2 separate regions of the Homo sapiens genome follow, and region 1 is linked to region 2. Evidence: fine-mapped expression QTL. A gene starts in region 2. The other region holds a variant in brackets. All regions are shown on one strand. Distances are between the middles of the regions.

Region 1 (2,917 bases), 21 kb before region 2:
TCCTTCATTGATGAAAACATCCTTATGTGGTACATAACTGCAATATAGTACAAGCCTAAAAATCAAAACTCTCCCAATTTCTCCTAACAGTGTGTAGTGTCTGTCCAATGCTGTGATTAAGGACATGATCTTACAGGAATGGTGGCTCATACCTATAATCCCAGCACTTTGGGAGGCCAAGGTGGGAGGATCACTTGAGCCCTGGAGTTTGAGATTAGCCTGGGCAACATAGTGACACCCCATCTTCATTAAAAAAAAAGAACATGGCCTTAGTGTCAGATCATCCTCAAATAGGGAGCAGGACCAACCTCATAAACTCACTGGCCATGTGACTTGGAGGCCCTGACCTCTCAGCCTCACTTTCCTCATTTATAAAATGGGGAGTCCTAGACAGCTAGAAAAGTAATATGAGATAATTACACAAAGTGCTTAGCACCAAAAGGGCCACACAGTTAAAGTGCTCAATAAATGGTATCTATTACTATTTGTATTATTTATCCAAAGATGTTTATGTTCTACCATGTTTACTCCTTAAGAAATCTAAATGATGGGTAAACTGGCTCATAATTTAGAAGGGATAAATTAGCAAAAGAGAAGAGAAACTCATGGGTCTTCAAACACACTCACCAAACCACTAAATAAACATTGTGGCCATCCTAACTGATAATTGTCTCAGCTACCCTACCCCCAACCCAGAGTTCCAGGTACAGCAAATGGTTAATGATCACCACAAGATTTCTCTGAGGCCCACTAAAATTTGGCTCAGGTCCTGGTACATTCTATTTAAGGATAGATAAGTATGGTTCAACAGGGGATGGATTCAGAAAAATTACTACCAGCCTCCTGGGCCTCATCTCTATAGTAATTCCATCTATTATTCACCAGTCAAATGCTGTGTGGCTGTTCGGAATTTCCATTTATACTGCTACCTCCCATTCCTATCTTCTTGTTTTAAGTGTCATTTGCTATGAATGAAGAACACTTACACAACTTAATTGAAGACAATGCAAAGTTACCATGAGATGTACCAGTTTTTTAAAGGTGTATTTCAATGAATTCTACCTGGTGGCAAAACCAATACCCAGGAAGTTCTATGAGCTGGAAAAAGGAAGCCACAGAAATGTAGCCACCCTTTTAAAGTCAATTCAGAACAGCTGTCCAGCATGCATACTTTGCATCACATAAGCTTGGGATTATTAGACTTAGTTCATTCTTGGGCTTTAGAAGCCTGGAATTATTAGACTTCGTTCATTCTTGGGGTTTAGAAGAGTCATCAAACTTTAGATTGTTTCCAGAAGGCTTACTTTCACTGTTACATTTTTTTCTCATATATTAATAGCATGCAAATATTTACAGCTACTATTGTTATAACTGCCTGATTTTCTTTATGATTCTTCTTCTGAATTTGCATTTGTAAGAATGGATTCCAACATTAAAACAAAAATTTTATATCAAGAATTTTAAATCAAGTAACTGGTTTTCAAACATACAGAGTAATTCACTAAGAAGAAAGGGGTCCTTTACAGATTACTATGAAATATTATTTGCTAACAAGATAAAGAATTTTGTTGAAATTTGATAACATTTTACTCTGATTCCAAATTTAAGGGAAAAAGAGAGGGTTTTGGTGTTTTGTTTT[T/G]TTTTTTTTTAGTTGGGGGTCTCATTGTGTCACTCAGGCTGGAGTGCAGTGGTGCGATCATGGCTTACTGCAGCCTCACACTCCTGGGCTCAAGCAATCCTCCCACCTCAGCCTCCTGAGTAGCTGAGGCTAAATGCATGTGTCACCAGGCCCCACTAATTTTTTAATTTTTTTGTAGAGACAGTCTCACTATGTTGCTCAAGCTAGTCTCAAACTCCTGGCCTCAAGTGATCCTTCCATCTTGGCCTCCCAAAGTGCTGGGTTTACAAGCATGAGCCACCATGCCTGGCCCAGAAAGTGGCAATGTTGGAACAGAAAAACTCTATGCATAGTTTCTTCCATAAACTGGGAAAAGTCTATCATTATTTAAATTTAGTATGGAAATTTCAGGTCGATTCAATGAGTCTATGCTCCACAGGAGCAAAATTTGAGAATCACTGAATATGTAAAACTTTTTGACAAGATAAACACTGGTTATAATTGTGTAAGTCATCAATAGCGTTTGCAAAACACATACTAGGTAGGTACATCCTAGAAATAAAAAGAAAAACAATAACACAATTTCAAGAACTGGTGTTTTTAAAAAGGCAGGGGGTAGGGGAGAACATGGCAAGAAGAATACAAAAGTCATCTTTCAGGACAAATGAATTCACTCTCCTAATATGAGTTAGAGCAGCCATAGGTAGGGGGTCACCAGAAAATTCCTACCTGTAGGAATATTTTTTAAACAGACTTTCTTACAAGGGAATCAAGCCACAGTTGCAGGCTCATTACTTTAACAAATCACAGTGGTATAGAATGGTGTATTCAAAATAGTTGTCAGATCTAAGAGAGGATGGTGGGGAAGAATATAAGAAAACCTACACGAAAATAAGAAATGCTAATTTGAAAAATAAAATGCAAAGAAAAGCAAAGCTCTCCTCTTTCACTGGGAGGCTGTAGAGATGTGAGACCACCATCTCTGTGAGGGCACCTTACTCCTCAGATCAACCCCAACTCTGGCAAAGATCAGGAAACAAAGTAGATTCTCTGGAAGTGCTGAATATAGAATAAAGTCTTTCAGGTCAGTAAAAATCTGACATTTACAATGAAAATAGGCAACTCTCTTCAGACCAATGGTTCTCAAAGTGTGGAGACCATCAGCATCACCTGGGAACTTTTAAAAATACAAATTATCACACCCATCCCAGACCCAAAGAATCAGAAACTGGGTGAGGCCCAGCAATCCCCTATGATTTAACAAGCCCTCCAGGTGACCCTGATGCAGTTAAAGTTTAA
Region 2 (2,917 bases):
TGATTAAGGACAAATGTTTGAAATGTTAGGTATATTTAAGTTCACTGCACTTAAAATGAGCTAAGAAGTTGTATAGGCTTGATTAGAGGGCTGCCTTCGTGAACTTAAATTAAAAGCAATAAATTCCAAATGATTCAAGTGATTGGGACTAAATATGGTATTCTGCCAGAGAAGTTGAAATGCAGTCCAAAGAGACTGAAATGGTGTCCAGGTTTCAAGAAATGGTGAAAGAGGAAAGGTCAAGTGTTGGAGTTGCCTTTCCTCTGGGTTAGTGAATGATTCACATTACACAGAACCCCTTTCAAGTACAACTTCACAGGAGTGACAGGCTCCCAGGACAATCTGTTTCATCGTTCCCAAAAAGAAGCCTCTCAAATGCTCCGAGGCGGGTATCTAAGTGTTGTCAGATGGAGAGAGGGAGGGGGAAGATGGGAATGATGGGAAAGCGGGGAGGGGGAGAGTCCCTGGACTTTTTATTCACAAAGGCGCAGACCAAGTCTCCTAGGCAGTTTCCAAAACGGAAGTCAAAGTAACTTCCCCACCCGCGGGAGGGCGGAGCCCTTGAAACGTAATAGGATCAGGCTTCAGCCCGGGCTCTGGCCCCTGGAAGAAGCCGGAGTCAACAACCAGCGGGGTCAGGAGCAGGAGCGCGCTGGGAAGGTAGAGAGGACCCCCAGCGCTTGCCGGCCCAGGGTGCACCAGGCCCCAGTCGCGCCCGCTCCTCCTCGTCGGCCCTGGCTCAGCCCCGTCAGGCACCAACTTCCCTCCCCGGCCAAGTGGGAGTGTCCGGCCCACAAAGTTTCCGCTGCGAGGTCGGGCCTCGGTCTCTGCACCGACCGCCTGTGCTGCCCGGGAGGAGTGGCCCCCTCCCTCCAGCAGCCGCAAGGTGGAACGGCTGCCCGGCACCCCATTTTGCTCCGCCTGTGGCACCAACCCAGACACGTGAGCGCCCGAGCCTCTCGCACCCCCAGGCTGATCCGGCAGGCGCGCTCCCCCCGGCCTCGGGCCCGCGGTTACCTTGGCGGCCGCCATGATTCGCCCCGGTTGCGGGCGACTGCGGGACCCACTGACTGGCTGGCTGGCGTTTGGGACCCGGGCGGCTCACTTCTAGTCCCGGCGGCGGCGGCGGTGGGGGCGGCGATACGGCCAGGCAGCGTGCGTTCCTGGCCTGCCTCCCCACGCCCTCCCGCCGGCGCGGGTCATGTGGATGCTGCCCGCCCATTGGCTGGGCCCAGCCTTGGCCGCCGGGGTGCGCGTGATCCAGCGGCCTCTGCCCTGCAGCCGGGGAGGGCTCAGATCCTGGGGCAGTGGCTGGACAGGGACACGTGACCCCGCTGCGCTGTCCAGCAGCGGCGGCCTCTGCGGCGTGGGCAGAGGTAACTTGGCCGTGTGCAAGCCCGTCACCTGAGGGCAGGTGGCCCCACCAGGGAAGCTGCTGGCTTCTGCTGATACCAGGGGCTACTGGGCCCTCGGACCGATGGGAGGGGCAAGTAACGACAGATGGTGCACGGCCTGGGGAAGTTGAGAACTCCACTAGGACACATACTTTGCTGGATATTTTTTCCCCTGTGCGTTCCCTTTGAAGGAGCTCCACTTTACACTGGATCCAAAAAGACTTTGATCCAAAAGCATTGACTTAGAAGGCGAGATTGCAAATATTGCTGGCACGCCTACTTTTAGATCAAAATCGGTGAACTCTTAAGAACCCAACAAGTGAATGTAGTGCAGAACGTATATTCATGAAACTACTCCATTTCAGCCCTACCTGTTAAAACGGTAGAAGTCAAAAGGCCCGGGTCAAAAGACTTCCCCCAAATAGGCCCTACTAAAATAAATAAACAAGCATTTTAATGAAAATTTGCTTATATGACCTCCAGGCCTTACTCCTCTTCATCAGGATTTCATTCTTCTGTCCTTGTAATCAAAATTTATAAGACAGTGGTGATCAGGGAAAAGGACTTTTAATGTATTGTAGGTTGTGGATGTAATATGGCAGCAAAAAGCACTTATTACTAATCAGTTTAATTCATTAACGTTGATTGAGTGCCTTCCTACTATGTGCTAGGCACTGTGCTTGGTGCTGGAAACCCCGAAATGACTTAAGAACTGGTTCCAACCGTTAAACAGCTTCAGGGCTATTGGGAAAGAGACACATAAATGTTTACTTCAGTATAACCTGTTAAGGCAGCAGACTGTTCCCAGGGCTCAATAAGAATACTGAGAATTCTCATGCCACTATGAAGAAATACCTGAGACTGGGTAATTTATAAACCAAAAGATTTAATTGACTCAGTTTCGCATGGTTTGGGAGACCTCAGGAAACTTACAGTTGTGGTGGAAGGCACCTCTTTACAGGGTTGCAGGAGAGAGAATGAGTGCCAAGCAAAGGGGGGAAAGCCCCTTGTAAAACCATCAGATCTCATAAGAACTCACTATCACAAGAACAGCATGGGAGTAACCGCCCCCATGATTCCGTTGTCTCTCACCGGGTCCTTCCCATGACATGTGGGGATTATGGGAACTACAATTTAAGATGAGATTTGGGTAGTGACACGGTCAAACCATATCAAAAGGTAACTTGATCTTGAGCTATGGGATTGGGGCAGTGGCACGACTAGTGGAAGGAGTCTGGCCCAGCAGGTAGGGGCTGTGTCATGGTGGGTCTTAGGCGCCTTGCTGAAGGGTATGCACCTTAACTGAAGGGTTTTAAGTCAGGAAGCAGCATGACTAGGTTTTCGATATAGAAAGATCTCTCTATGGTCTGAATGTGCCCCCCAAAATTGATGTGTTGGATACAATCTCTAATGCATCAGTGTTGGAAGGTTGGGTCCTTGGGGAGGTATTTTCATCACAAGGGCTCTGCCCTCATAAATGGATTAATGCTGCCATAAAAAGAGGTTTGGGGAGTGGGTTCACT

The links. PIP is the estimated chance that this variant, and not a neighbour inherited with it, causes the effect.
Region 1: its variant is fine-mapped to the expression of SLC25A13 in whole blood (TOPMed, PIP above 0.99).

Annotation. Positions count from the first base shown.
Region 1 is chr7:96,299,998-96,302,914 of GRCh38, forward strand. All of the region lies in intron 1 of SLC25A13 (solute carrier family 25 member 13), which reads right to left. Among named protein-coding and RNA genes, the nearest start is that of SLC25A13, 21 kb to the right of the region's middle. The variant T/G (reference allele first, on the strand shown) is at 1,640.
Region 2 is chr7:96,320,925-96,323,841 of GRCh38, forward strand. SLC25A13 (solute carrier family 25 member 13) reads right to left here and starts at 1,174. Exons shown (of 18, transcript NM_014251.3): 1 at 1,018-1,174. The coding sequence starts at 1,032. RefSeq lists a silencer at 970-1,309.